Linked DNA regions of Homo sapiens: regions 2 and 3 are each reported to be linked to region 1. The links are microRNA targets in miRTarBase. Many come from high-throughput screens and were not tested one by one. Region 1 holds a microRNA gene; each other region holds the end of a gene's coding sequence.
What was found. The annotated mature microRNA hsa-miR-6737-3p reads UCUGUGCUUCACCCCUACCCAG and lies in region 1 at 3,567-3,588, shown strand. An mRNA with a match to its seed (bases 2 to 7 or 8) in the 3' UTR can be bound and repressed. Matches are read on the target gene's strand: a 7mer-m8 pairs with bases 2 to 8, a 7mer-A1 pairs with bases 2 to 7 and ends in A, and an 8mer does both.

Region 2: the mRNA of CEP57 is a reported target of hsa-miR-6737-3p. The part of its 3' UTR that is shown has no 7-base or 8-base seed match.
Region 3: the mRNA of BAMBI is a reported target of hsa-miR-6737-3p. Seed matches in the 3' UTR shown: 7mer-A1 at 929-935.

The regions. Positions count from the first base shown.
Region 1 is chr1:153,955,707-153,965,938 of GRCh38, reverse strand. MIR6737 (microRNA 6737) reads left to right here and starts at 3,519; the gene lies at 3,519-3,588. It overlaps CRTC2 (CREB regulated transcription coactivator 2), which reads left to right and starts at 7,327. Exons shown (of 14, transcript NM_181715.3): 1 at 7,327-7,594. The coding sequence starts at 7,442. SLC39A1 (solute carrier family 39 member 1) reads left to right here and starts at 2,402. Exons shown (of 4, transcript NM_001271958.2): 1 at 2,402-2,444; 2 at 3,192-3,410; 3 at 3,589-3,719; 4 at 5,185-6,829. The coding sequence starts at 3,224. The coding sequence ends at 5,841. RefSeq lists enhancers at 2,026-2,305, 2,346-2,515, 2,666-2,725, 1,615-2,814, 2,766-2,835 and 5 more and a silencer at 7,548-7,697.
Region 2 is chr11:95,828,085-95,838,316 of GRCh38, reverse strand. It overlaps CEP57 (centrosomal protein 57), which reads right to left. Exons shown (of 11, transcript NM_014679.5): 10 at 8,986-9,130; 11 at 5,624-7,291. The coding sequence ends at 7,061. MTMR2 (myotubularin related protein 2) reads left to right here. Exons shown (of 15, transcript NM_016156.6): 13 at 110-223; 14 at 1,993-2,169; 15 at 2,866-5,437. The coding sequence ends at 3,027. Among named protein-coding and RNA genes, the nearest start is that of CEP57, 43 kb to the right of the region's middle.
Region 3 is chr10:28,681,634-28,691,469 of GRCh38, forward strand. BAMBI (BMP and activin membrane bound inhibitor) reads left to right here. Exons shown (of 3, transcript NM_012342.3): 3 at 350-1,299. The coding sequence ends at 768. Among named protein-coding and RNA genes, the nearest start is that of BAMBI, 9.0 kb to the left of the region's middle. RefSeq lists an enhancer at 2,242-3,150.

The DNA of each region.
Region 1 (10,232 bases):
GACTTGCCTAAAATCATACATCAAGGTAAGGTAAAATTGAGGAGATCTATTGGGCCGGGTGTGGTGGCTCACACCTGCAGTCCCAGCACTTTGGGAGGCTGAAGCGGGTGGATCACCTGAGGTCAGGAGTTCAAGACCAGCCTGGTCAACATGGTGAAATCCCGTCTCTACTAAAAATACAAAAATTAGCCGGGCGTGGTGGCGGGCGCCTGTAATCCCAGCTACTCGGGAGGCCGAGGCGGGAGAATTGCTTGAAACCTGGGAGGCAGAAGTTGTAGTGAGCCAAGAGCATGCCACTGCATTCCAGCCTGGGCAACACAGCAAGACTCTGTCAAGAAAGAAAGGAGGAAAGAAGAAAGGAAGGAAGGAAGGAAAAAGAAAAGAAATAAAGTTGCCAAGAGATTTTAAATGTTCTCATCACAAATAAATATGTGAAGTAATGCATATGTTAATTAGCTTGATTTACCCATTCTGCAATGTACATATATTTCTTTTCTTTTTTCTTTTTTTTTGAGACGGAGTCTCGCTGTGTCGTCCAGGCTGGAGTGCAGAGGTGTGATCTTGGCTCACTGCAACCTCCGCCTCCCCGGTTCAAGCGATTCTCCTGCCTCAGCCTCCTGAGTAGCTGGGATCATAGGCATGCGCCACCACGCCTGGCTAATTTTTGTATTTTTAGTAGAGACAGGGTTTCACCATGTTGAGCAGGCTGGTCTCCAACTCCTGACCTCGTCATCTGCCCGCCTCGGCTTCCCAAAGTGCTGGGATTACAGGCGTGAGCCACCGCGCCCGGCCCAATGTACATATATTTCAAAACATCATGTTGTACACCATAAATATATACAATTATTAATCATATATGACATATGTATGTGTATAAATAAACAAATATATATATTTGACAACTATAAAGGTAGAACTTGGACCAGAATCCAGGTTTCCTGACCCCCCCAGTCATAATTCCTTGTTAATGTTACCAATTACGAATAATTTTTTTTTTTGAGACGAAGTTTCGCTGTTGTTGCCCAGGCTGGAGCGCAATGGCGCGATCTCGGCTCACTGCAATTTCCGGCTCCCGGGTTCAAGCGATTCTCCTGCCTCGGCCTCCCGAGTAGCTGGGATTACAGGCCCCCGCCACCACGCCCGGCTAATTTTTGTATATTTAGTAGAGACGGGGTTTCACCATGTTGACCAGGCTGGTCTTGAACTTCTGTCCTCAGGTGATTCATCCTCGGCCTTCCAAAGTGCTTGGATTACAGGCGTGAACCACCGCGCCCGGCCCCTTAAGAAGTCTTCACATTCCTCTTTTACTTAAGGAATTACTGGGCTTCGTTTCTGGAGCCTTGTGAGAAGCATTACACTGTCCCCCCTTTTTTTTTTCTTTTTTAAAATTAATTTTCCTGTAGGAAGCAAGATCCCATCTGTCCCTTCTTTAGGCAATGAAGCTTTTTTCACCTTTGCATAAAAGAACAGCTGAGCCCCCTTTTTAAATTTTCTTTTGTCTTACCGTCCCTTGAGGCTAGAAGAGGATTCTCAAGGCACAGAGTTGTGGGCCACAAGAATCCAGGTTGAGGAAACGGTGAAAGTCCTGAGCTGAAACAACTACCTTGGGGCATTCAAGGAACAGCAAACAGCAAACCGACCGGCGAGGGTGGCGGGAGCTGGGCTGGAAATCAGGTGGGAGAACCGGCCAGACGCCCGCAGGCGCGGTACGCAGATATCCTGGAATGCGCTGGGGGCTCTTCCCTGGGCGCGGCTTCAGCACCCCGCATTCCGGTCCCACCACGTCCCCACCCACCTGGAGAAGGCGGAGGCTGCACTGAGTGCCATAAGTAGTCGAGAAGGGATGATTTTCAAGACATACCCTCTCTTTGCTTTCCCCCCTTTCCAATTCTGCCTTGTCTTTTTCCTTGTTGTGGGTGCTGGTGAGGGAAAGCAGTCAAGGAAGTTGGTCCCAAGAGGGGAATGCTTTCCCTTGGGCGCCAAGAGGCACTGACGAGGTGTCAGAGCCTTCTGAGGGACAGATGAGACTTTGGCCCAAGGCCAGGAAGATGTTTTCAGATGTGGGCCGGAAGACTTGACAATGCGGGGTCTCCCTCTTTTAAAAATATCCATATAATCAAAGCCTTTGTTGACTGGCCCGCTCCGGCCCCTCAGTCCTCCACAGATGCGCCCCAGGGCCCCAGCCCCGAGGTCCTTTTCCTAATATCCGCTCTTGCTCTCGCTCACTCTCCTCAGGTCGCCTGCTCCGCCCGCTCCCGCTCCCGATCTCTGATTGCTCCTAACTGACGTCACTCCCGGTCTGTCCCCGCCCACTCGGTGCTGCCATTGGCAGTCGGTCGTGGGTACGCGGCTCCTGTGGGGGAGGGGGGAGCTATGGGAGGGGGCGGGAATTCCCGACTCTAGGCCGGAAGCGCGCGGAGACCATGTAGTGAGACCCTCGCGAGGTGAGTGCGGGCTGTCTGGCAGCGGGGTCCATGTCGGCTGCCCAGGCCTCCCCGGGCCCGGGAACAGGAGTCCCAGCTCACGCATTCTTCATCTGCTTCCCGCGACGCTTGGCGGCCTCGCACCCCGCCTCCTGGAGCCCGGACTTTCAGGCACCGCCCTCAGTGTCGCCTCAGTCCGTCCCGGGACCGCAGACTCTTAGGGCCCCTCTCTTTGGCCATCTGCCTCTAGGTCCCATCCTGGGGCCTGAAGCGCTTGTTCTCTGCGCTGGGAAAAGGGGAACGATGGAGCGATCCAGCACCCAAACTTACCCTGTCCAGGTGGCCCACGAAGCTACCCAAGACATCTCTGCACAGCCCTAGCCTTTTTGGCTTCACCCACTCCGTTCGGGAGTTGGGGACCCGGCCTCTACATTCCTTAGGGGAACTCCAGCTCCAGGTCCTATTTGGAGGCGGCTCCTAGTTTCCTAGTTTTCTGGGGGCACCAGGTGAAAGGGTGATGAGATATCCATACAGCCTTTCTCATGCCTCGGTTTCCCCCGTGCAGTCTCCCTGAATAAGTCACTTGGGAAAGAAAGTGTGAGAAGAGAGGAATGTTCCTGGTACAGGAGTAGATGAGTCACCCTGGGTAGGGGAAGGTCACAAAGTGGCTGGGGCCAGGGAGCTGCACTCTGCTGACCAAGCTTCCCCATTCCTTGCCCCATCTTCCTTTGCATGATTTTTCCCAACCACTCTGGTCTGTCTTCCTAGGTCTGAGAGTCACTGGAGCTACCAGAAGCATCATGGGGCCCTGGGGAGAGCCAGAGCTCCTGGTGTGGCGCCCCGAGGCGGTAGCTTCAGAGCCTCCAGTGCCTGTGGGGCTGGAGGTGAAGTTGGGGGCCCTGGTGCTGCTGCTGGTGCTCACCCTCCTCTGCAGCCTGGTGCCCATCTGTGTGCTGCGCCGGCCAGGAGCTAACCATGAAGGCTCAGGTAAGCCTCTCCTTTTCCCCACACTGCTATGAATGCTTGGCTTAGGGAGGGCTCTGGGGCTGGCGGGGAGTGACCAAAGGAGGAGGGAAAGGCAAGGGTAGCCATTGTTTGGGTTGGGGTGGTCGGCCCTGGAGGGGGTTTGTTTGCTTATTCCCCTCTGTGCTTCACCCCTACCCAGCTTCCCGCCAGAAAGCCCTGAGCCTAGTAAGCTGTTTCGCGGGGGGCGTCTTTTTGGCCACTTGTCTCCTGGACCTGCTGCCTGACTACCTGGCTGCCATAGATGAGGCCCTGGCAGCCTTGCACGTGACGGTGAGCACTGGCCTGGGCATGTGACTTGCGGGAGGGGAATCACACACCTCTGGGAGTGTTGGTTTGTGGAGATTGATTCATGTGCCACTCCATGACTGTGTGGAAGACTTTTGGCATGTGGTATGAATTGTGATTTTTGGTTATGGGGCATAATTCTTTCTATGTGTTCCCTCCCCCTTCCCCATTCCCTGTGTGACCCCTACATTCCCGTTGAGACAGTAAGACACTTTTTCTCAGGTGTGTGACTTGCTCTATGGGTTCTCAGTTCTAGCTACCAGCAAGTGCTCCAAGAATCATCTTCACTCTCTCACCACTTTCCTAAAGGGCTGGAGATAGAGGTCTCTGTAGGCCTGAGAAGGATAGGAAGCGATTCCCTGGGTCTTGGTGTTGCTAACCTTTTTAGGCTTTGGCCCAAGGAAGTGGGCTGTGAGGAATGATCAAGTCCACGGCATAGGACTTGGTTTATTATAGGAAAAACTGAGGCCGTTGGATAGTGGGGCAGGAAAGTCATCCTGGGCTCTTTCCTTTTTTCCTCTAAAACTGAGGAAGTAACACTGGATGTATCCCTTTGTGTGTCTGTGACTGAGTGACCTGTGTTTCCGTGTGACTGCGTATAAGCCTGAATGTCCTGTGATATGTGGCTCTATGTATGAGTATTTGGGGAGATGGGCAATGTGTGACCTTTTCATGTATGTCTACATCAGTGACTCTCAACTAGGAGTGTGGCTTTGCCCCTCAGGAAACATTTGGTAATGTCTGGGGATATTTTTAGTTGTCACAATGGGGAGGGGGATGGAGGGAACATTGTGCCTGCTATTGGCATCTGGTAAGTAGAGATCAGAAATGCTGTTAAACAATCTACAGTGCACAAGACAGCTCCCATGACAAAGAATTATCTGGCCCAAAATGTTTTTGTTTGTTTGTTTTTGTTTTGTTTTGTTTTTGAGAAAGAGTCTTGCTCTGTTGCCCAGGCTGGAGTGCAGTGGCACAATCTCGACTCACTGCAATCTCTGGCTCCTGGGTTCAAGTGATTCTCCTGGCTCAGACTCCTGAGTAGCTGGGATTACAGGCATCCACCACCACACCCTGCCAATTTTTGTATTTTTAGTAGAGACAGGGTTTCACCATGTTGGCCAGGCTGGTCTCAAACTCCTGACCTCAAGTGATCTTCCCACTTTGGTCTTCCAAAGTGCTGGGATTATAGGCATGAGCCACTGCCCCTGGCCCCAAAATGTTAATAGTTCCAAAGCTGAGAAACTTTGGTCTACACGTAACACTGTGAGTGACACCATAATCTGTGTGTACGTATCATTCTGTGTCAGTGTTACCAATTCACTCTATCTTTGTGTGACTGAGAGTAGCCCTGTGTCTGTGTCAGACCCTAGGTCTGTGTAACTGGGCTTTCACCAGATTTTGCATCTCACTCTTCCTTCCCTGAACATTTTGCTGCTGCTTCTGCCCACAGCTCCAGTTCCCACTGCAAGAGTTCATCCTGGCCATGGGCTTCTTCCTGGTCCTGGTGATGGAGCAGATCACACTGGCTTACAAGGAGCAGTCAGGGCCGTCACCTCTGGAGGAAACAAGGGCTCTGCTGGGAACAGTGAATGGTGGGCCGCAGCATTGGCATGATGGGCCAGGGGTCCCACAGGCGAGTGGAGCCCCAGCAACCCCCTCAGCCTTGCGTGCCTGTGTACTGGTGTTCTCCCTGGCCCTCCACTCCGTGTTCGAGGGGCTGGCGGTAGGGCTGCAGCGAGACCGGGCTCGGGCCATGGAGCTGTGCCTGGCTTTGCTGCTCCACAAGGGCATCCTGGCTGTCAGCCTGTCCCTGCGGCTGTTGCAGAGCCACCTTAGGGCACAGGTGGTGGCTGGCTGTGGGATCCTCTTCTCATGCATGACACCTCTAGGCATCGGGCTGGGTGCAGCTCTGGCAGAGTCGGCAGGACCTCTGCACCAGCTGGCCCAGTCTGTGCTAGAGGGCATGGCAGCTGGCACCTTTCTCTATATCACCTTTCTGGAAATCCTGCCCCAGGAGCTGGCCAGTTCTGAGCAAAGGATCCTCAAGGTCATTCTGCTCCTAGCAGGCTTTGCCCTGCTCACTGGCCTGCTCTTCATCCAAATCTAGGGGGCTTCAAGAGAGGGGCAGGGGAGATTGATGATCAGGTGCCCCTGTTCTCCCTTCCCTCCCCCAGTTGTGGGGAATAGGAAGGAAAGGGGAAGGGAAATACTGAGGACCAAAAAGTTCTCTGGGAGCTAAAGATAGAGCCTTTGGGGCTATCTGACTAATGAGAGGGAAGTGGGCAGACAAGAGGCTGGCCCCAGTCCCAAGGAACAAGAGATGGTCAAGTCGCTAGAGACATATCAGGGGACATTAGGATTGGGGAAGACACTTGACTGCTAGAATCAGAGGTTGGACACTATACATAAGGACAGGCTCACATGGGAGGCTGGAGGTGGGTACCCAGCTGCTGTGGAACGGGTATGGACAGGTCATAAACCTAGAGTCAGTGTCCTGTTGGTCCTAGCCCATTTCAGCACCCTGCCACTTGGAGTGGACCCCTCCTACTCTTCTTAGCGCCTACCCTCATACCTATCTCCCTCCTCCCATCTCCTAGGGGACTGGCGCCAAATGGTCTCTCCCTGCCAATTTTGGTATCTTCTCTGGCCTCTCCAGTCCTGCTTACTCCTCTATTTTTAAAGTGCCAAACAAATCCCCTTCCTCTTTCTCAAAGCACAGTAATGTGGCACTGAGCCCTACCCAGCACCTCAGTGAAGGGGGCCTGCTTGCTCTTTATTTTGGTCCCGGATCCTGGGGTGGGGCAGAAATATTTTCTGGGCTGGGGTAGGAGGAAGGTTGTTGCAGCCATCTACTGCTGCTGTACCCTAGGAATATGGGGACATGGACATGGTGTCCCATGCCCAGATGATAAACACTGAGCTGCCAAAACATTTTTTTAAATACACCCGAGGAGCCCAAGGGGGAAGGGCAATGCCTACCCCCAGCGTTATTTTTGGGGAGGGAGGGCTGTGCATAGGGACATATTCTTTAGAATCTATTTTATTAACTGACCTGTTTTGGGACCTGTTACCCAAATAAAAGATGTTTCTAGACATCTGTACAGTATCTGATTCGTTTGTTTTGGGAAAGGGGTGGGCATGTGGCCAGCCTGAGAGGGCCTGAGTCCCAGATGTTTACAGCTGTTTTAAGATTCTTGGTCTCACTGTTTTCACTCAGGACCCGATAGTCCCCTTCCCTGAAGATGACCTAATTTTTCCTCCTTTGTGTCTTGGTACTTCTTTCCCGGTCTCCACCCCTCGGCTTCCCTTCTCTTCCCTCCCCTCCCTCTTCCTTTCTTCTCTCTTCAATCCCTCTCTCCTTTCCGTTCGTAGTCTCAGGGCTAATTTAGAACTACTCTTCCCAGCTTGCACCTCTCAGGGAGTAGCCGAGAGGGTGGAGCCAAGTCCCCAGTTTCCGGAGTCAGCAGGGCTGCTGGGAAGTGGAGTCCGTTTCCTCCTAGTGCTGCGTGACTGGGGATGTGAAGGAGTCTCGTAAACAAACTACAATTCCCGGCGGCCCCCGCGCGCAACAGGTCAGGGCTAGGCTGGGGCCGGGTTCGCGGTGCTCGCTGAGGCGGCGGTGGCTACGGCTGGAGGAGCCGGGCCGAGGCCGCGGCGGAGGCCGCGGCTGGTACTGGGAGGGTGGCAGGGAGGGACGGGGAAGGAAGATGGCGACGTCGGGGGCGAACGGGCCTGGTTCGGCCACGGCCTCGGCTTCCAATCCGCGCAAATTTAGTGAGAAGATTGCGCTGCAGAAGCAGCGTCAGGCCGAGGAGACGGCGGCCTTCGAGGAGGTGATGATGGACATCGGCTCCACCCGGGTGAGGGGCCGCGCCGGGGAGCCGGAGCAGAGCTGAGCAGTTACGGAGCGGAGACCGGAGAGGCGGGGCGGGGGCGGGCGCCGCAGCGAAGGAGGCGGAACAGAGCAGGGGACGCGGGCGCCGCCGTTTGGGAGGCGCAGGTTGAGGGCCGAGGGGCAGGAAGAAGGATTTTGCCGGGGGAGACCGAAACACCGGAGAGGTTCGGGGTGTAGAGGCGACTGGGGGCCGAGTACGTGAGGTGGGAGTGGGCGGAGAGGGGAGATGAAGTCCGGCGGAGGTAGGAGGTGAGTGGTCCTTGTGCATCCCTGACGGAGTCCCCTCGAGGACGCTACTGAAGCATGCCTGGTATTGGGGTATGGCCTGGGAGGAGGGCTGCTTGTCTGTAACCTGGCTCCTCTGAGTTTGTGATCTCCTCCAAACTGGTCCCTCTGCCTTCTGCGCTTTGGTGCCCCCGGGAAAGGGCCCCTTGAGTGGTTTGAACGAGCGGTGCTGTGTATAGTGGGGCAGGAAGTCCCCTCCTGCGTCCCGTCCTTTTGCTTCCTTTTTCAAATACTTCTTGTGGTTTCCTGACGTGAATGAAGGTGAGGTCCATTGCTTGGTGTTTTGTCCTGGCCTCCTTGGAGGAGAGGTAGGGTTTTGAATCCGACAACTGGGTAACCGTCCGACCATAAGTTGTGTGGAACTCTATGGTTTGCTGAGCTTTCTAGGGAGTTGGCTGCTTTGTGGGTTAGTGTGTAGGGTGCCTTGGAGGGTCTTCTATGTGTTGAGAATATTCATTCCTAGGAGTTCTTGAAAGAACTTTCAGGCCTCTGCCAGGCTGCCTCTGAAGCCCCCCTGGCTTGGTTTCTTGCTTTCCAAGGCTGGAGGTCAGAGGGACCAAGGGGTAGGAGTCCGCCTAGGTGGTATGCAGTCTTAATTTAGGGACACATTCTTCTAAAACAACAGTAGGTAAGGATATTGCAATGATTCCTCATGGCAGAGAGCTAGAAGGAATTTAAGGATTGATGGTGGAACATTACTACAACATCTCTAGCCTTTTTCTGCTGGTCTGACTGTGGTTGCATTTATGACTGTGACTCTGGTTGTATTTTTGTGTGTATCCCCCTTGACTCTGTTACTTTTTTTTTTTTCTCGTCCTTTCCCCTTTGAGTCTCTAGGGACTATGTGCCCTAGTTTGTGGGAGTCAGAAGTTAGGTGGGGAGGCAAATCTGGGAGGGTGTCTGTGCACGCATGTGCACACTTAAATGCATGTGTGTGCATAACCCACTGTAACCATTGTGAGGATTATTATCTAACTGTAGACTGCTCCCCTTTAGGAGCTTTTTCATCATGTTGGGGACAGAGACAGGAAGATGGGAGGCTGATCTTGATAGCGTGAGGCCCTGCCCTCAGGACTGTGATTCTAGCAGAGGCATGGTGGGATCTTAGGGCTCGTATGTGCAAAGAAAGGCTGTGCGAAACTCAAAAGCTGGGGCTTCTCTTTACGGTGCCTCGATCTCTTAAAAGGCCCCTTCTACCCACCTTGCTCCTATTGGTTAATTTCTCAGCTACACAGAAAAGTCTAGTGGGCATACATGGCCAGGGGACCCAAAAGTCTAGAGCTAGGGACAAGAGATCTGGGACTCAGCCTGTTATCTGGCCAGGTGGGAGGGCTCATTTGAGACAGAGATGGCCATGGGAGGCTATACCACTGAGATACTGGGGTTGCCATATATGAGACCTCAAGTGGTCTTCAAGTGGTCCAGAGGTCAGCACAGTGCTCACTAGGCTGACCTCCTGGAACAGAATGTCAGTTCTGATGTTGGCTTCTGTACAAGAGTGTGACCCTGGAAGCTCTTAGAACTTGCCCCTCCTCAGCTGCCCTCCTCCCCATGGCCTTGCCCTGGGCCTGTTTATTTGGCTGGTCGCAGGGGCTGAGCCTTGGAAATAGATGCTCACCTCTCACAGAGACAGGATGTCTGTACACAGGCTAAACCCATGCCAGGCTGTCTTACGCCTATGCCAGACATAGCTCCCCAAAGTGAGGATGAGACCAGGAAGATGGCCCTGGCCCATGCTGGAGTGGGCTGCTGCTCTCTGTCCACCCTCCTTCTCCAGGCTTCCCTGCCAATTCAAGAGCCTTAGGATTCAGTGGAAGAATGTCCCTTGGTTTTGGTGCTGTTTTTCCAGCTAGGAGAGCTGCTATTCCTTGGATGTTCTAGTTTGGGAGGTGCAGGCTTTGTGTAGCCTTCCTGAGGCTGGGCAAGTGGCAGAGCCCAGAAGCCTGTGCTCTCCAGAGTGGGAAGGAAAGAGGCTGGCAGTAATGGCTCTGTGACATCCACCTGTGGCCTTCCTCTTAATCTCTCAATTAGTCCTGGACGCATCTGGAAAGAAAGCAGAGGTTCCTAATAGGCACTCCCCCTTGTGAGTAGCCCGGGAGCTCCTGGCAGCCCCTCAGGGACTCTGCTTAGAGTGATGCCAAATGAGACAGGCCCTCAGCAGAGTATCTGTCTCTGCCTGGCAGGATGATGTCAAGCAGTAGTGATATCATTGATGAGGGCAGTCTGCAGATGGGCTCTGGTGGGTTATTTGCACCAAATCTCGGTGGACCTTTCAAACCCCAACACTGGCCTTTTTTTTCTGGCAGATAATTTCTTTA
Region 2 (10,232 bases), not on the chromosome of region 1:
GAATGTTTAACTTCATTTTAAATACTACCTCAAAAGGATCTACCCATGACAGGGATGAATATGCTTGAAGAATGTCTTAATTTATGTGTTTGTGATGTTTGATTTGCAGTTTCCTACCGCATTTGAATTCAATGAGTATTTTCTCATTACCATTTTGGACCACCTATACAGCTGCTTATTCGGAACATTCCTCTGTAATAGTGAACAACAGAGAGGAAAAGAGGTAAAATATGAAACATGACCTTCCCCATACTATCTCTACTGTATACTTTTCCCTAAAAGAATGTACTCTGTGACAGATTTCAACTGAAGTCATTCTTTTGGGTCATACTTTATCTTACATGCTATAATATTGAGGGCTTCCTTCCATATATCTGGACCTGATATATTCTGAAGTATCTTTGTCACAAGGCTGAAGGTGCTAGCTAGCTGTCTGCTGAGTTCATGAGTGGGAAGTGGTTTCTGCTAAAGAGAACTGAAGTACGTGAAATCTAAGGAGCACCAGTGTACCAATTTTTCCATGTAGAATGGAAATCCTTTACAGCAGGTGCAGAAAAATTTAATTAGCAGAAAATGTATATTCGAGTGAATAGGCAGCTCAAATTCCCAAGTATATCCTACTTATTGAGACATTTTAGGTTAAGTTTTTGAGTTTTTTAAGTTGTAAAGTAATACCATAAAAAAATTCAAATACGGAAAAGATAGTATGTAGAAAGTTAAAGTTTTTCGTTATCCCTTTTCCCCAAAGGTATCACTGTTAAGTGGGGTTGGTATTAAGAAGAAATGGTGTAAGGATTACATTTCAAGTTTTACTTCTTTATCAAAACTTGTCTATCCTATGTATCAACATCTTAATCATCTTGATTGGTATCTCCCTCTGCATCAACTTTTATTCTAAAAAATGTGGTTACAAAGTATTTATGTTTTATTTTATAAAGCACAGTAGGAATAAGTACTTGCACTGAAGCCCAGTTGCTGGGTTCAAATCCTGGATCTATCACTTACTGTAACAGTTCGCTTGGGGAAGTTAATGTCTGCTTTTGTAAAATTATGAAGATTATTAAATAAGCAATACAAAATACCACAAGAACTGCTATGTAGTATTTCCTAGACTTCCTTAAAGGCAGGTATTAAATTTTTAAATTCACCTTATGTCTTCAGTGTCTAGCATGCAGTAAGTATTTCTATGCATAGCAGGCACTCAACAACTTAAGGAATGTTCATTAGAAATAGCATAGCTAAGTTTCGAAGAGTTTTATTTTTTGAGAGCCTTGGGGTAGGAATCATTGATTATTTTTAAAAAAACTTTTTAAATTGATAATAATATGCATACCATGAAATTCACTTTGATAGTGTATAGTTGACTGGTTTTTAGTATATCTGAGTTGTACAGCCATCACATTTTCATTTCAGAACATTTCATCACCTCAGAAAACCTGTTAATAGTCACTCCCCATTCACCCCTGCCAAACACTAATGTTTTTGTCTCTAGATTTGCCTCTTCTGGACATTTCATATAAATGGAATCATTTAATATGTAAACCTTGTGTCTAGCTCCTTTCCTTTAATATGCTTTCAAGGTTCATACATTTTATATCATTTCTTTTTATGGCTGAATAATATTCCATTGTGTGGATATATTTTACTTATCCATTCGTCAGTTGATGGACTTTTAGGTTGTTCCCACTTCTTGGCTGTTAATGAATAATGCTGCTTTGAACATCTATAAAAAAGTTTTTGTACAGACATGTCTTCTGTTTGCTGGATATGTACAAGAGTGGAATTGTTGGGTCATATGGTATCTCTTTGAGGAACTGCATACTGTTTTCCAGTACCCTCTGATCTTAATATAAGTTGGTTTATCACTGAAGTCTCCAAGTCCACTTCCTCTAAAGAGATTTTAATGACAACAAAGTACTTCTTCACAAATTTCATCTAAAGTGTAAATGGCTTATGTGGTGGAGAATCTTTACCTATTTTTCCTGCCTACAGAATCTTCCTAAAAGGACTGTGTCACTGTGGTCTTACATAAACAGCCAGCTGGAAGACTTCACTAATCCTCTCTATGGGAGCTATTCCAATCATGTCCTTTATCCAGTAGCCAGCATGCGCCACCTAGAGCTCTGGGTGGGATATTACATAAGGTGGAATCCACGGATGAAACCACAGGTATGTGCCTTACAATATACAATGGGAGTTTTCATTCATGCAGTGCAACTTTGTCTCCTTAAAAGCAGCTGGAAAGATTATCTGTGCATATTTAAAACTTTACTCCTTACCCATTGATAGTTAACAATCGTATAGTAGAAAAATACTACACTGGGGCAGGGTAATCAGTATACCTGGTTCTTAGGACTGCTTGTATGACATTGGACAAATCACTGCTCTCTTTTCTTGCATCTTCCCTCCTCTGTCTGGATAACCTCTAGGGGGTCTTGTTTTAATAAGCTGAAGAAAGTAGCTTTAGGAAAGTTAAAAGCTGAACAAAATTCTGGTCTACTGTGAATATGTTTATGGAATATTAACTACTTAGAACTGTTTAAGACTAAAAACCTATAAATAACAGGGAATCTTCTGACTACTGTCTTTTAATTGTCTTGTTAATTATTTGTTGTATTTGGAAAAGTACCAGTTTCAGGAGCACCTACACAGCAGGTTATTCTTTGGAAATACTCAGGGGCACTGGGAAAGCCAGTGAAAAGATTAGTGGTGTCCACAGTCCCGGTATTTAATTTCACTGATGGGTTGGAAAGGTGCCATTGGTTCCAACAGCTGAAAAAACATACACTGCAACATTTAGGGAATGATTTGACCTGGCTTTGGTCAGGATTGCCTAGTTGAATATTTTATGTTTTGCTCTTGCAGGAACCTATTCACAACAGATACAAAGAACTTCTTGCTAAACGAGCAGAGCTTCAGAAAAAAGTAGAGGAACTACAGAGAGAGATTTCTAACCGATCAACCTCATCCTCAGAGAGAGCCAGCTCTCCTGCACAGTGTGTCACTCCTGTCCAAACTGTTGTATAAAGGACTGTAAGATCAGGGGCATCATTGCTATACACTCTTGATTACACTGGCAGCTCTATGAGTAGAAAGTCTTCGGAATTTAGAACCCATCTATGAGAGAAAGTTCAGTCACTTTATTTATTTTAAATCTCTCTAGGATGAGTTTAGAACTGTAGCAGTGCAGGTGGCTTAAGTGAAGTAACTCCATATGTAATTACATGATTATGATACTAATCTTTTAAGTATCCAAAGAATATTAAAATACTTCAATCCTGGATTCACAGTGGGAACAAGTTTCTATTAAAAGGCAAATGCTGTTACAAATTTTTGGCATCTGGTAATATTAAAACCATTTTAGAAATACACTCTGTGCTCACTGTGCAGAGGAACATCAGTTTTCAAACCAACACTGAAATTCTGTGGCATCACATATATTGGGCCTTGATGTCATGACAGATCAAAATCATTTGATATCCCTTTCTCCATTCTAGGTTTTTCTTTTTTTCAGTAACTGATTTACCTTGATCACTTTTCAACTTCCATATTCTTCATATAGTAAAAGGCAAAGTGTTGAAGATACTACGGTGTGGTAGTAGTTGAAAATTATTGCCGTCATTATTTACATACTTAAGACATATTAGCAAGTTGATCCAAAATGGGAGGCCTTATAGATGTGCTTGGGGGAAAATGAAGGGGAGAAAGTAGCCATACAGGAGTTCAAAGAATTCCATGCCCTTCAGATTAGCCCAATTACCAGAAACATCATGAAAGATATTTTAAAAACTAATTATTTACTACAGTGTATTTCACTTGTCTTGTGTGTCTGAACACACAGAAGCTAATTAGCAAGTTTTTAAGAAGTATTTAAAAATCTTACTAGGATTGACATTTTTTCTGAATTCTGTATAAATAGCTTATAGTGAGAAGTACTGTGCTCAAATTTTACATTTTTTTCCTTTGCAAATTCTGTAATTTCACTCAACGATTAAGTCTACCAAAGAACACACTGCATGTAAAAGATGTATTACAATCTCAAAGCCAGTAAAAGAAATCTTGCTTCACTGTTCACCTGCTACAAGTAAGAGTTTGGTGCTGGTAGAAACATTTGACTCTGATGTCTATTTTATTCTACATAAGAGCCATATGTAATGTACTGTAACAAAGGAGCTTCTTGTCCCCTTGGTCTTTTAATTAAAAGAAATTCCAACTGACTTTTAAACTTTGTTCTTGTCCAAAGTTGCCATTTCTTTTTTTTCCCCAGAAATATTTGGAAATTATTGGAGGAATATGCACCCCAGATGAAAATGTTCAGTTTGTACCCATTTTTCCTTAACCAACACCCAAATCAAACAATTAAAATATACAGTGTTTTTCCACTCACTAATTCACTATACAGAGAGTCTGAACCTTAGCCTCCCTCTTGGTCTTGCAGTGAGGAAGTTTCTATTAGTATATCCAATTTAGCAAAATTGGTACCAAAATGATTTCTTTGGTAATTGTGTGAAATATAAGCTTTTTAACAGGGCATTTAAGTGGCTAGCAAATCAGTAATTAAAAATTAAGCTTTCTACTCCAAGTATTTCACAAACGCATCTGCCATTTTCCTCATTTAAACCTTGGTTATCTTGGCCTGATACCACATAAAAGAATGTAGAATGGCTGAAGAGATCAAGAATTTAAAGCTTCTAGTCTTAACATACTTGCATCCACTTCAAATTCAAATCAAAAGCCAGGGAAATCTAAGTGCAACCCTACCACTTCTCTGCTGAGAACCTTCCAGTGGTTCCCCTCACCTTCTGCAGAAGTCTCCAATATGGAGTACATGCACTTGGGCATTTAATATATACCACTGGTGTGTGTGGGAGGGAGGGAGGAGGAATACTAGCCCTTTTTATATATTTACACAAGCAAAACTTTTAAATATTTGAATTGACAGTTACATGTTTCATAACTTTGTATGTCTATTGGTTGTGCAGGTGTAATTTTTTCCCTTTTTGATTAGGGTTACAAAATTTAGAGACCAGTATGATTAAGTTGAAGCTCCTTAGCCTCCTTCGACCTAGTCTCTGCATACCTCAACTTTTACGTACCAATGCTACTCTGCTGTTCACAATTGCCTCATGTAATCTGCAGATTCCTGCCTCCCCACTTTGGTTCAGTCTGTCTTGTGCACCTGGAACAACTGTTCTCCCTTGTGACTAATTCCTATTTTCTAGAGTTTAGGCATCATCTCTTCCTTTGGGAAGTTATCTGATTCACGACTGCCTTCTCTGACATCCCCACCTTCCTCTGTGCCCCCATAGCACTGTGTATACCGCTACTACCACTGCAATTCACATTATATTGGAATGAACAATTCACATGTCTACCACAAGTCTGTAAACATAACCTTATTTGAAATGAATTGCAATAAAGCTCTGTTACAACGTAAGTGGATGGATGACACATTCCTCTACTGTAAACTTGCAGATAAGAAAATGGAAGCAGTATTTTTTCACTTCTCACCTGACAGTACAAAAAGCTGGAGTAGTTCAGTTTGAATCCTAGCTGAGAAAAGGGGTGGGATTTAGCATCATTCAATCACCATTCTCCTAATTAGGACTCAGAGCCACTACAATTCAAATGATGGTTATACAATTTAATGACCTGAAATTCAAACAAGGAGATAACAGGAGTTTTTAATAGCTGAAATGGTGGTTGACACATATATTTATCATGTCACCAGAGCACTGTTTCTCACTTCCCTTGTGTCTATGGGCTCACAATTATTAATTCAATCAAGCTACGAACCTACTCATTAGAAAACTGGACACAGAAGCACAAGTTTACAATTTCAGGAGAGTCACAAATAATACCCCAAAATCTTAAGGATCCTAAATTAAAGCCTGTTACTGTAGTATCTTGTATCATGAGGAAATCTAATATTCTTGGGCTCTCTTTCTATGTAAGCATGAGTGTGGCAACTAAGTACTAGTTTTTTCTCTTCATCAATACATTGATGTCCTCCTATTTAGAAATGCATTTTTTGAGAGCTTGTCACAAAGCCTTTATTAACAGGCTGTTAAGGAAAGTTGCAGTGTTTCCTTTAAAAAGGTGCTTTATTGACTTTAAATTTATAAAAGGTTAACATGTCTTGATCTAGTTGAAATTATGATTTATATCAACATGATAATTATGTGTACAGTTTATATTCCACTCATACTGTACACCAGTAAAAGCAAATATTCAAAGGGTTCTCTAAGTTTCAAGATTAAAAACCATAATGCCTTGACTGAATATCATGATTACAAAACAGGTATTAAGAACTGTGAAGGTATATGCTCACAACATATCCCTTCTCCCATTCTCACTTTATTCCAAAATCTCATTTATTTCACTGACAATTTGTTTATACTTTCAAAAATCCTTTTATAATTTTTATAGATATAACTCAAAATGACTGCTTGGGTCTTTAAAAAATTAACAGATTAAAAAGCAATACAAGTGCACTTAACACTGATCAAAGTCTGAAATGCCAAAAAGCAAAATAAAAATCCTCTGAAATATATATGTATTTTTAAATATAGAAAAACTCCACCAATAGTAGAAACAAAGTATGTTTAATGGTTGCTTTGGAAAGGGGAAGTGGGCACCTCATGCCAGGGAGATTTAAAAATGAGACTTTTCAAGCAAGCACTGCCTATAGCATAGTCTCATATTTTGAAAATTTAAACCTAATTTTAATTATATATAAAGAACTATTTTAAAAAATCACACCCACAAGTAAAAAACTGGTAATCTGTTTACAAAGTGCAGCGTCAGTACAGCAAACTCATCTCAACAAAAGATTATGTGTGGTTTCTCGGGCTTTAAAACTCCCCTGGTTTCCATTTAAATGCTTTAACATTGAGTCATCCTGCATACATGAAAAGCCTGTGTAATGAAGCCTGGGTCCTTTAACACCTGCTATTAATTAATTCCAACATAAGTGAGTATGAGACCTGGGAAGTAAATTGTCATCATCTGATTGATGAGGTACAGATTATCTGAATAAAATTTCTGACCTGGTTATGAGTCAGTAATCCCAACACAAACTACTGCTTTGTAATGAATTCTGTATGCTTTGCATGTCCTTCAATAACTGAAGATTTTTTCTCCTTTTTTCTCCAGGTCTCAGTTTCATAAAATCTTTCTTATTTGTGGTCCCTGTGATTCCAGAACGGCTGCTGCTGTTTCTTTCTTCATCAAGAGTCTTTTTGGTAGCTTTTAATTCCTTCTTCTGCTTCTCTAACTTCTGTTTCTCCAGCTATACCAAATAACCAAGGCAGGAAGGAAAAGGAGAATTTAATGAAAATATTTTTTTTCTGACAACAAAAAGTACAAGAGTACCTTTTTTTGGTTAACTCTCATGCTAACTGAAAAATAATACATTCTAGGCTTTCTTTTAAAGACTTCAAAATCTACTGCACTAGTCATTTAACACTTAAATATTAATATAAATAAATATATGCTTATATATATATAAAACAATACACAAACAAGTAGACATGAGTAAACAAATTCTGGTTGTCCTAAATTAAGGCAATATTGCCAAAGTACAGAACAGGGCGAGTGAGAAACAAGGGGAGTTGAAGGAAAGACTCATGAAGGAGGCAAAAAATCAGACACAGAGAAAAGAAGAATGGGAAGGATTTTCACAAATGGGAGAAGAGGAGAAAGATATTCTAGAAACTAGTCTGAGGAGGCAAAGAAGCAATTTCCAGATGGATGAACAGATGTAATTGGTAATGTATTAATACTATGAAAAGAATTTTATTTTTGTTCCATTATTTTTAGAATAATTTTAAATACGGGAGCTTTATTTTTACTTTAGCCAAACTGATGCTGGCATGTTGGTGTTCCAATAGAATAAGTCTAATTAGTATAAGCAACAAATTAGACCATTACTCCTTACTCCTACAGGAATAATTTGCTTGTATTTCTTTTTCATACATGAACTTTGAAAAAACAGCCAAAGTTTTAGAGTTGAAAAGGCTAGTTTCATCCCAGCTCTGCCATTTCCCAGTAAGCTGGTACTTGGGCAAGTTATTTAATTTCACTGAGGATATATGCATACTTCCCAGAAAATGTGGCTTAGCATCTACCTCATCTATAATATGAGAATATACCCACCTCAGAAGCCTTTTGTGAAAATTAAATGAGAAGATATACTCAGAGCACTTGGCACTGTGTGTCTATCATATGGCTACCAATCAACAGTCAACAAAACTGTTCTGCTCTCTGAACTTCTCAGCTTTCTCCATTTTAGTCAGTGGAATCACCATCCTAACTCCCTCTCCTTCTACATGATACCCAGCAGCAAGTAACCCCAATATTTTTTTTACTTCCAAAACATACCTCAAATCTGTTTACCTCTGCCCAAACCCAACTACTGTCTTGCTGACCACCTCTGATACATCTATAGCTGATCTCTCAGCCTCTCTGCCTTGATCCCATTACCCTACCCCTAGTCACTACAGTAATCTCTTAAATATATGAATCATGTTTCTCTCTGGTTGAAAACCCTTGAGTGTGATGTCACCACTGCATCTGGTAGTACTACATTGTTGGCTGATATAAAATGATTAGCAACATAAATATATTTCACATATTTAATGTATGACTTATTCCTTTGGAAACAGAATTTCGCAGGTGCTTTTAAAAAAACTTACTTGGATAAACTCCAATTTAAATTCATCAAAGAAGTTAAAGCTTATTCATAAAGAATATTAAATATATTCAGTATTTGAAAGATGTTTCTTAGATGAATATGCTAAGTGACTAAAAGTGTCTTCTTTCTTAATCCACTTACCAATTCTCAATGAACAAATGTCTTCAGTAAAGAAGTATCTCCTGTAGATATTTATCTATGATACACTTAGTGTCATCATTTAATATTTGAATTAAAGTGTTTTTTTTTTCTTAATCATTAGAAACTTGAGTGAAGGAAAACTGAGTTACCTGGGCTTGGTATTTTCGAACTTTAGTTATTTGGTTGGCTTTTGCTTCCATCCTTCCCACTAATGCCTCCAATTCACACTCCAACTTGTCTTTCAGTTCAACGGTTGGCGACTCCTGGATAAGTTTTGCAAGCTGCTGGTGATCACTATATACAAAGCAGAAGTAGAACATGGTTAAGTTTTCTGTGTTTCATGGTTAGGTCTATTATACCTCATTATGGGTTACTGCTCCATGTGTTTAAAAAATGACTCCATTTTTTGAACAGAGCAATAAATTTTTTTTTTTTTTTTGAGACGGAGTCTTGCTCTGTCGCCCAGGCTGGAGTGCAGTGACATGATCTCGGCTCACAGCAAGCTCTGCCTCCCGGGTTCACGCCATTCTCCTGCCTCAGCCTCCCGAGTAGCTGGGACTACAGGCGCCTGCCACCATGCCTGGCCAATTTTTTGTATTTTTAGTACAGACAGGTTTTCACCCTGTTAGCCAGGATGTGATATGCCCACTTCAGCCTCCCAAAGTGCTGGGATTACAGGTGTGAGCCACCATGCCTAGCCTAGATCAAGAAATTTTTAATTAAAAATATGAATTTAAAAGTTCAAGAAAGGCACTAGAGGGAAATGCAAGAGTTCTTAATTTCAAGGTTAATTCTTTATATTCTTATTTTCCCCAAAAGAGTATTGTATATGTAAAGTCTACAGATGAATCTTGCTCTTCAAACACTCATGTCTTATCAGTTAAGTTTAGCTAAAATGAATGTGATGTCAGGTGCCAGATGATGATGTAGTAAACAACAGACCACATATACAACAGTGGTCCCGTAAGACTTTAGTATCATATTTTTACTCTACCTAGATGTTTATATACACAAATACTTACCATTGTGTTACAACTGCATATAGTATTTAGTAGTAGAGTAACATGCTGTATAGGTTTGTAGCCTAGGAGCAATAAGCTATAAGCTTAGCACACTCTTATGTTAGCACAAGGAAAAGAAAATCGCCTAATGATGTATTTCTCAGAGCACATCTTTGTCATTCAGTGATGCATGACTGTATATCATAAGTTCTCAAAGAAATAAAACTTAAATATAAACCTTGGTCTTCAAAACATTTAACAGTATTTAAAAAGAGAGAGATTTTACCCTTATTAGTTGTATTTGTTAAAGTCCCAGTAACTTGGTTGGTATAAGGATTGTGCTCAACCATACTTGCTCAACAAAGGAAAGTAAGATTTAATAAAGTCAACAAGTT
Region 3 (9,836 bases), not on the chromosome of region 1:
TGTTAATGTAATTAGAGACACCAGAGGGAGAAGCCTGGCTGGATGCAAAGATGCATCTTGATTGAGTGGCTTTTATGTCTGAGCATTAGATGTCTGTCTACATAATAGGTTTTGCCTGTTTTTTCAACATTTTGAAGACATTAAAAGGCCATTACATCTCAGTAATGACAGTCTGTAAACAAATGCGTTTGTAAGCTTCTTCAGATAGTTTTGCAATGTTTTCTAAATATCGTTGATTTAATTGTAAGCTTCTTTTTAATGGAATTCTTGGTTAAAATGAATTGATGATTATGAATATCCCTAGGAGGAGTTAGCATGGAGTTTGATCATTTTCTTTGTACTCCTTTAGGACAAGGAAACAGGTATCAGCATGATGGTAGCAGAAACCTTATCACCAAGGTGCAGGAGCTGACTTCTTCCAAAGAGTTGTGGTTCCGGGCAGCGGTCATTGCCGTGCCCATTGCTGGAGGGCTGATTTTAGTGTTGCTTATTATGTTGGCCCTGAGGATGCTTCGAAGTGAAAATAAGAGGCTGCAGGATCAGCGGCAACAGATGCTCTCCCGTTTGCACTACAGCTTTCACGGACACCATTCCAAAAAGGGGCAGGTTGCAAAGTTAGACTTGGAATGCATGGTGCCGGTCAGTGGGCACGAGAACTGCTGTCTGACCTGTGATAAAATGAGACAAGCAGACCTCAGCAACGATAAGATCCTCTCGCTTGTTCACTGGGGCATGTACAGTGGGCACGGGAAGCTGGAATTCGTATGACGGAGTCTTATCTGAACTACACTTACTGAACAGCTTGAAGGCCTTTTGAGTTCTGCTGGACAGGAGCACTTTATCTGAAGACAAACTCATTTAATCATCTTTGAGAGACAAAATGACCTCTGCAAACAGAATCTTGGATATTTCTTCTGAAGGATTATTTGCACAGACTTAAATACAGTTAAATGTGTTATTTGCTTTTAAAATTATAAAAAGCAAAGAGAAGACTTTGTACACACTGTCACCAGGGTTATTTGCATCCAAGGGAGCTGGAATTGAGTACCTAAATAAACAAAAATGTGCCCTATGTAAGCTTCTACATCTTGATTTATTGTAAAGATTTAAAAGAAATATATATATTTTGTCTGAAATTTAATAGTGTCTTTCATAAATTTAACTGGGAAACGTGAGACAGTACATGTTAATTATACAAATGGCCATTTGCTGTTAATAATTTGTTCTCAACTCTAGGATGTGGCTTGGTTTTTTTTTTTCTCTTTTCTTTTTTAAACAAGACCAAGATCTTGCTTATTCTTCCATGTGCCTGTGTAATTTTCTTACAGTGTGGAGTTTCTAAATGTATACTGACCATCTTTTAGTGTCTTACCCACATTCTGGCTATAGGATAACTCTGGTTTTAGCTTTCATCTAAGAAGGAGATCTGGAATTTATGTGTACCAGGTCAGATATGATTGATCAATTTCTGGAGTTGACCTAGCAAAGGTCATTTTGATCCAGGTGTTCCGGAATACCTTTTCCAATGTGTATACCTCCACCCAAAAAAGAAAAAAAAACCAACTAAACAACTGTTTTTTTGTTCAAGTCAGTCACTGTCTCCTTTTACTGTTGATTAATTGGCCAGTTTATTTTGTCCTAAGCCAAATTAAGTATTTTGGCTCCCCAATTAGCCAAACCTTACTGTACAACACACTTAATTTTAAACCTTGTGCTTCAACAGTGTGATGCTTTTTTTTTTTTTAATACTTAGAAAGCTTTTCTGTAGTGAACACGATACACCAATTGATTTAAATAACTGCTACTAGGTTTCATCCTCCCAAATGATCCTTTATGTAACCAAATAGAACATTGGCTTTAGCCAGTAACTAATACAGCTAGGAAACAATGTTTCCTCTTATAAGACTTTTTGTCCTGATAACATTGCCCATCCTGAATTTAAACGTATGCTTTATTTGTGTACTTCCCGTGCCCCCAGTGGATCTTTCTTATTTTAAATGTGAGAATATTATGCCATGGAGGGTATCTTCTGAATTCCTTTGTATATGTGAAATTTTTGCTTAAAAGTTAACCCGTAGGCCGGGCGCGGTGGCTCACACCTGTAATCCTAGCACTTTGGGAGGCCGAGGCAGGTGGATCACAAGGTAAGGAGTTCAAGACCAGCCTGGCCAACATAGTGAAACCCTGTCTCTACTAAAAATGCAAAAATTAGCTGGGCGTGGTGGCGTGCATCTGTAGTCCCAGCTACTCGGGAGGCTGAGGCAGGAGAATTGCTTGAACCCAGGAGGCAGAGGTTGTAAGCTGAGATTGTGCCACTGCACTCCAGCCTGGGCAACAGAGGGAGACTCCATCTCAAAAAAAAAAAATTACAGCCTGCATATTCGAGTATGGGGTTTTCTTTTATTAATATTAATAGACCACCTGCCCCAAAAAACTAAGCTGTGGAATAAACACATATTAATAAATGATAGCATTCGTACTGTCCCTTTTAAGATGAGCAGCTCTTGCATGCATGCCTTATATTTTATAAAAGATGTTAAGCTTTATGTATGTCAGTTTTTGAGGAAGCCAAAGAATTGTTGAACCCAACCCTTCAAACCTGTCAAGGGAATTGATCAAAGTTGTCTGTTGGTGAAATTTCCACCCTCACCTCCACCTCTGGCTCTTTGAGTCTCACTCTGTCGCCCGGGCTGGAGTCCGGTGGCGCCATATGTATCACTACAACCTCCACCCCACTCGCCACACACCACACGTGGTGCACACCACCCTGCCCCCTGCCCCGCCGCGGGTTCAAGCGATTCTCCTGCCTCAGCCTCTGAAGCAGCTGGGATTACAGCCACCCACCACCATGCCTGGCTAATTTCTGTATTTTTAGTAGAGACAGGGTTTTCACCATGTTGGCCAGGCTGGTCCCAAACTCCTGACCTCAAGTGATCCTCCTGCCTCAGCCTCCTAAAGTGCTGGGATTAAGGTGTGAGCCACTCTGCCCAACCCCACTCTGGCTCTTGATCACATTATAGTAGATTGTAGTTTAGAGATGAAAGGACTTCTTGCTCCTTGTACATTCTCATTTCATGTACGACATTATGCAAGCTCAGCAATTCTTCAAGTGGCCAGTTTTTATATCTGTTACGTAGTCAGAGTTTCTTTTCTCTGCTTGCCCTGATGAGGGCCGGTTCACCTCATTTTTTCCAAGTACAGGTTAACCAGGAACTCTGCAATTCTTTAGGAAATAAAACAATGAAGGATTTAAAGTCATGTGCTTTGAAACACTTTGAAATCAGTGAACCCCTTCCTCCCAGAGAGGCCTATGTCTGGACTGGTGTTACCACAAACTTCATGGAGGATGCATGCAGCCTCTCCACTTGATCTTGGGCCTTTGTTCTTCCTATTGTATATTCACGAGGCTATTTACAGCTCCCTGTACTGTGGGGAGGTGGCACTGTGCCCATGGCCTCTCAGTTTTCTGGGGCTCCGCTTCTAGCCACATAATAGGCCAGCCCTGCCTCTTTTCCTAAAAAAATCCTCTCTCTTGATATTCATTTAGTTTTTACACGTGTCCTCACCACCAATCTGAAAGTCAGATCCGCCTTCTTATGAAAATACTGCAGGCACCTCAACTTTGGATGTAACTAAGAACTACATATAGATTTTACTTTTGCTTCCCTGTGAGAGTGCAGAAGTTGCCAGGAGCCAGAGATTAAGGACTAAGATAAGGTCCAGGGTCTACCTGATTCAGTGATGTCAGAAGTGGTGGTGACTGGTTTATTTGTTTTTCCGTCTTAGAGATGTTTACTGTTACTCTGAGGTGTCACAAGGCCAGGCTAACCAGGAACAACCCTTGCTTAATATTGTCATAGAACTCCCCCCAAAAGGAATTTTCCTTTCTGAGTGGAAATTTGCCCAAACTAGAGACATGGGACCAAATTTGCCAAGATGATTTTCTATCTACAACTCCTTACATTCTACCACTGTTGAAAAAATTGATCTGTGCATGGTTATGTCTTTTATGTTATTTTTTTTTCCTTTTATTTTGAATGGCTTAGAGGCTTCCTAGAAATTGACTGGTGTGTCTCTAATTTCTGCTGAACTGATTTTATTAAAAACACTACACCGTAGGGGGTTTGACCTTATAAAATACCAAACATGTCTGCTTTAGAAAATCACAAAGCTTTCCTCTGAAGAGCTCATAAATCTGGTTTCAATATGGGTTGATTATAGGCTAAAAGCTTGAAAGCAGTGGCATCTAGTATCATGACTAGGGAACTGGCTCTTTTGGGGCCGGGATAGCTTTTTTTTTCCCTTACAGCCTCTAATTGGTCCTCTTCTCTGCCTCTCAGCTCAAATGTCTTTAAACCTCCACAGCTGTGCGAACTTCGGCAAATTATGTAAGCTCTTTGAATATTCACTTTTGTTGCCTGTGGTTGCCTGTGGAATGGGGGCCGTAGTAACACCTTGTAGGATTATTGTGAAGAGACATTGTAGCTATTTTCATTCATATACACAACATTCTTGCATAAACTGTGCCCACATAATATTCCTTAAAATCTGAGAACTTGTGCCCATTATTTGTACCGTACATTAATATTGCTTTTTAATATTTAAGATCTTTGCATACTTGAGACTTGCCAGTCACCTGCAGACTGGATATGGCATTTTAAATATTCATTTTCAATTTATTATTTTTGGCCTCTCATGCCTATTAAATAGGTTCATTTGTAATTGTTTCCTTCTGGAATAATACAGATGGCTACTGATGAGAATGTTTTAATCATATAAACTTACTTGAGTTTCTAGTATTTGATAGAATGAAGTTCCCTTGGAGTTTCAGCTGCTCCGAATGGTCAAACCATTGAGAAAATCAATGGATTTGATAGGTAGCAGATAATGTGTCCATATTGTTTGCGTGGCTTATGTCTGATTGGTTCATTCTCAACAATTGATTCTCAATGCCACAATCGATTACAGCCTGCCCCACGGGTGCTCCCAACAAAATACAAATACTTCTAGAACTAGTTTTTAGAACTTTGTGAATTTGGAAGTGGAGGAGTGAGTTAAAAATCATTTAATTACCCTGGATGAAATTAATTTAGTTACTCTGTGGGTCACAGTTATAATAGAAAAATTAAATGCTCCAGATACCAACATTTATAATAGAAAAATTAAATGCTCCAGATACCAACATTTATAATAGAAAAATTGACTGCTCCAGATCCCAACTGACTCCCCTTCCCTCTACCCAATTCATCCTGTCAATATGACTCTATCTGCTGCCTCAAAAAAAGCAGATCATTGATTTTTTTGGGGAATTAGAGATCCCATAGAATGACGAAATTCAACTCTCAAATTTTGGCAACTCTTTATTTGGAGTACATTTTACACTCTGAACATGTCCTTGTTAATCTGCTAACACTGCACTGTTTTGCAGCGTGGTGGTGTAATTCATTTGTCTGCCATTCCAGGAATTTGAGGATAGAATCAGGAAGGTGGCAGAGCTGAGATTAACCAGTTGGGGATTTACTTCTTCCAGCAAGGCAGCAATTTTCCAAGGGATGTGCTTTTTTAGAATTTCAGAGTATTTATTGCTAGGGAAGACCTATCAGCCAAACTTCTGCAAACTTTTCCCATTCTTTGAATATGAAAAGGGTAACAGGAAAGGCATTGATAAGCAATCTGGGGAGATAACTTGGGTAAGCAGTGAGATAATATCTCAAGGCATTTGTCATTCCTCAAGACTTTTAGGAAATTCATTCTATCTAGGAGCTAATGGCCCGCTGACCTCTCAGGGGCAATTTCAAATGGTGTTTAGCTCCCTGTATCTTGCAGATTAGATTGATGTTGGACTAAATCTGAATAGAACTCAGGAAAGATCAGCTGAAAACTATGCATGCTGTGTGTGTGTGTGTGTGTGTGTGTGTATGCCATGCTAATTGAATAGACTTCGTAATCCTGGAATAACTTTACATTTAACAATTTTCAAGGCATTGCATAAGTACATTTGGAACTTGCAAGAAGTCAGCAATTTGTTTTTAGACACATGAAGACTAAGTTGTGATGAATTAATAAACTCAGAGGCTGTTGTGTCAATTCACTCTGAAAGATCTCACATTACAAACCTAATGGAACAAAAATTGTTTTAGCAGTTAAAACCAAGAGAAATACAAAAAGCTCTTTATCCCCGGTTTCTTCCCCTTGGAATTTCCCTAGGGAACCGATGAGGACAGTGGAAAAACACCACACTTCTCAAAGCAAGTTTCTTACTTTTTAAGTGTTACAAGTTCACGGTGGAGTGTTTTTTTCCCCCTAAATTTAGTGGATGTGGTTTTGATACCATAGCTTTAATTCACAGTTGCCTTGGTAAATGAGGGCCTTTCTCACCTGGATTTGGGGATTAAACTGTGAACTCCCCGTGGGCAGGAGCTGTGATCAATAACCTTTGTACATTTCCAAAATCCAAAGGAGAGAATTAGATGAAGGACAGATTAAGACCTTTTGTTTTCAGGCACCTGTTTCTGGTTTTTAGTAAATAAATGTTGTCTTTCTCTTTCATTTCTCTATCCTAACTGATTGCTTTACAGATTTATAATTTTTGTCTGGAGAGCCTAAAGGAAAACAAATTGCTAGTGAAGGAAGTTGAGAAAAAATTCCAATGGGCCTGAACATTAACGAAACATTGCTAAGGTCAAATATCTGAGTCTACCTTTTATATTTGGTGCAGGCTCTAAGCTCATTTAAGGACTAATTCTCACCCAGAAGTGTATCACTATTCTCCTTTGAACTAAGAGTTGTACTTTCATTTTAGTATTTAAAGATAATCCAAAATTTCCACCATTGTCTCTCCAAGGAGTTAAGAACAAGCCACTGAGAGTTTTGTTGATCAAAAATGTTGAGAACCTGGAATACGCTACCTGATTTAGTATTTCATCCTCAATGGCTTGACAGGCCCTGCTATACCAGGGCAACTTTGGCAAATTCTCTTTTCTTCTCATGGAAATGAACCTCTGCCCAGAAGCTGTAATAAAAGCAACAAATAGCTCCCTGCCTCTTTCATTCAAGGACACACCAAGTTATAAATTCCCTTCCCTTCACAAACACTTAGCGTCTTCATGAAAAGTTTACCTTTAACTTCAAAATCCAAATAGCTCTTGTGCATCCATTGCAGTTTTATAATTCACACTTTTATATTTTTCTTTTTTTTTTTTTTTTTTTTGAGACGGAGTTTCGCTCTTGTTGCCCATGCTGGAGTGCAATGGTGCGATCTCGGCTCACTGCAACCTCTGCCTCCCAGGTTTGAACGATTATCCTGCCTCAAACTCCTGAGGAGCTGGGATTACAGGCATGTGCCACCATGCCCGGCTAATTTTGTATTTTTAGTAGAGACGGGGTTTCTCCCTGTTGGTCAGGTTGGTCCCGAACTCCTGATCTCAGGTGATTCACCTGCCTTGGCCTCTCAAAGTGCTGAGATTACAGGCATGAGCCCGGCCTATATTTATTTATTTTATCACATTATTATATAGTGTTCTTTTACAAAAATTACTTATTTTCGTAAGCCCAGCCTGTAGGTCAGGCTGGAGTGCAGTGGTGGGATCATAGCTCACTGCAGCCTTGAACTCCTGGACTCAGTGATCCTCCTGCTTCAGCCTCCGAGTAGCTGGGACTACAGGCACATGCCACCACGCCTGGCCTTATCTCATTTTTTTGGTAGAGGGAGTCTCCAGGCTGGTCTCAAACTCCTGGGTTCAAACAATCCTCCCGCCTCAGCCTCCTGAGTAACTGGGACCACAGCTGTGCACCACCATGCCCAGCTAATTAAAAAAAATTTTTTTTGTAGAGGTGAGGCTCTCACTTTGCTGTCCGCACTGGTCTCAAACTCCTGGCCTCAAGTGAACCTCCCTCCAGAGCCTCCCAAAGTGCAAAGATAAATTTTGAAAAAAGAATGTATATGTTGGGCAGGGGTGGCAGGAGCGGAAGAGAAGGGGAGGTCATTCTTGACTTCACAATCCTTATACACTATTTTTTCTAGTGTCCTGTGTTCCTTTTATTTATTTATTTATCTTAAAATATTATACATATCTTTATATTTTCTGAGTCCTGGCTCAAACCAGTATCAACCTGCTTCCTGCTTTTTTCTTTAATGTGTTAGATTTTAAAAAATTGATACACGATCGATATACATAATTTGGGGGCACATGTGATAATTTAATACATTCATGTAATTTGTACAGATCAAAGCAGTATAGCTGGGTATCTATCACTTTAAATATTTGTCTTTGTTGTATACTAGAAACATCTGGATTATTCTCTTCTAGTTATTTTGAAATATGTAATAGATTATTGTAAACTATAGTCACCCCACTGATCTGTCAAACACTAGGTCTTATTTTTTTTTTCTGTCAAACTATCTATTGGTACCTACTAACCAAGCTCTCTTCATCCCCCTCCAGTGGTGCTTACTAAAAATTGAATAAACGTGGAAAAGAGAAAATCTCCCTCTTTAAAAGGAACACTGTTGTGGACATTTTAAAATGCAAACGCCTTGGCTGGAAGTCAGAAATCGTGTTCTCTCTGCTAAACCTGGTGTAGCATTTAACACGCTTGAAGTGGAGGCATCTGGTCACCAATTTCACAGCCTGGACAGAGCAAGAAGGTGCGGCTGGTTTAGGAGGCGGCCTGCCGGGGGGGATCGTCTGTCCATCTGGGCTTGGTAAATGTCAAGGGTCATTTCCCTGTCCTGACATTTGATTGTGAAGCAGGTTGCGAGGTAACTCTTTCAAGGGACTGGACTGTGACAGTCACCATAGTTGGACAATAAAACCCGAACATCCTTCACCATCTTCTTTAACAATGGGAGGTTGTTTGTTGGCTTTGTATGCAAATTGGCGTGAGTAGCTAACAGGTTGCTTTGAAATCCTCAATTTGTTTACCCCAACCTGGGAAGCCTGACCTTTTCTTCAGAGGCAGATTTATGGAGCTATTTTTCATGGCTCTCAGCAATGAATTGGGTTCAGCAGGGTCCCTAGGATTTTCATTAACTCAAGTAGGCTTCAGAAGCAGAAGAGCTCTGCTGGTTCCCTGGACTAACACAGACAGTGGTGACCACGTCCTGCAGTTCCTCTAGGGCTCTGCTGGCTAGTCACAGCAAACTGCTGTGACATGCCATGTTTGCTGGCATGTGACAGCAAACAACTGCTAGGGGGAAAAAGAAAACCCTTTCTTCAGAATATCCATACACAAATACCTCATCTGGAGAAAAATACATTGGCCATTTTTTTTTTTGGTCTTCCCGTTTCTTCTGGGAAGTCACACCTTTGCACCTGGCCTAAAGAAGAACCTGCCCTTTTTTCTGAAGCTTTTTCTGAAAGTGCTTATCCTAATTTTTTTTTCTTTTTTGAGACAGGATCTCCCTCTATCGCCCAGGCTGGAGTGCAGTGATGGGATCTTGACTCACTGCAGCCTCAACCTTCCAGGCTCAAGCAGTCCTCCCACCTCACTCTTATGAGTAGCTGGGAATACAGGTGCACACCACCACACTCAGGTAATTTAAAAAAAATTTTTGTAGAGACGGGGAGTCTCACTATGTTGCCCAGGTTGATCTCGAATTCCTGGGCTCAAGTGATCCTTCCACCTTGGCCTCCCAATGTGCTGGGATTATAGGTGTGTGCCACCACACCCAGCCCACATCCTAATGTTTTTATAAGCCTGCATAGCTGTGATATGGTTTGGCTCTATGTCCCCTCCCAAATCTCATGTCAAATTGTAATCCCCACCTGTCAGCGAGGGACCTGGTAGAAAGTGATTATATCATGGGACTGGATTTCCCCCTTGCTGTTCTCATG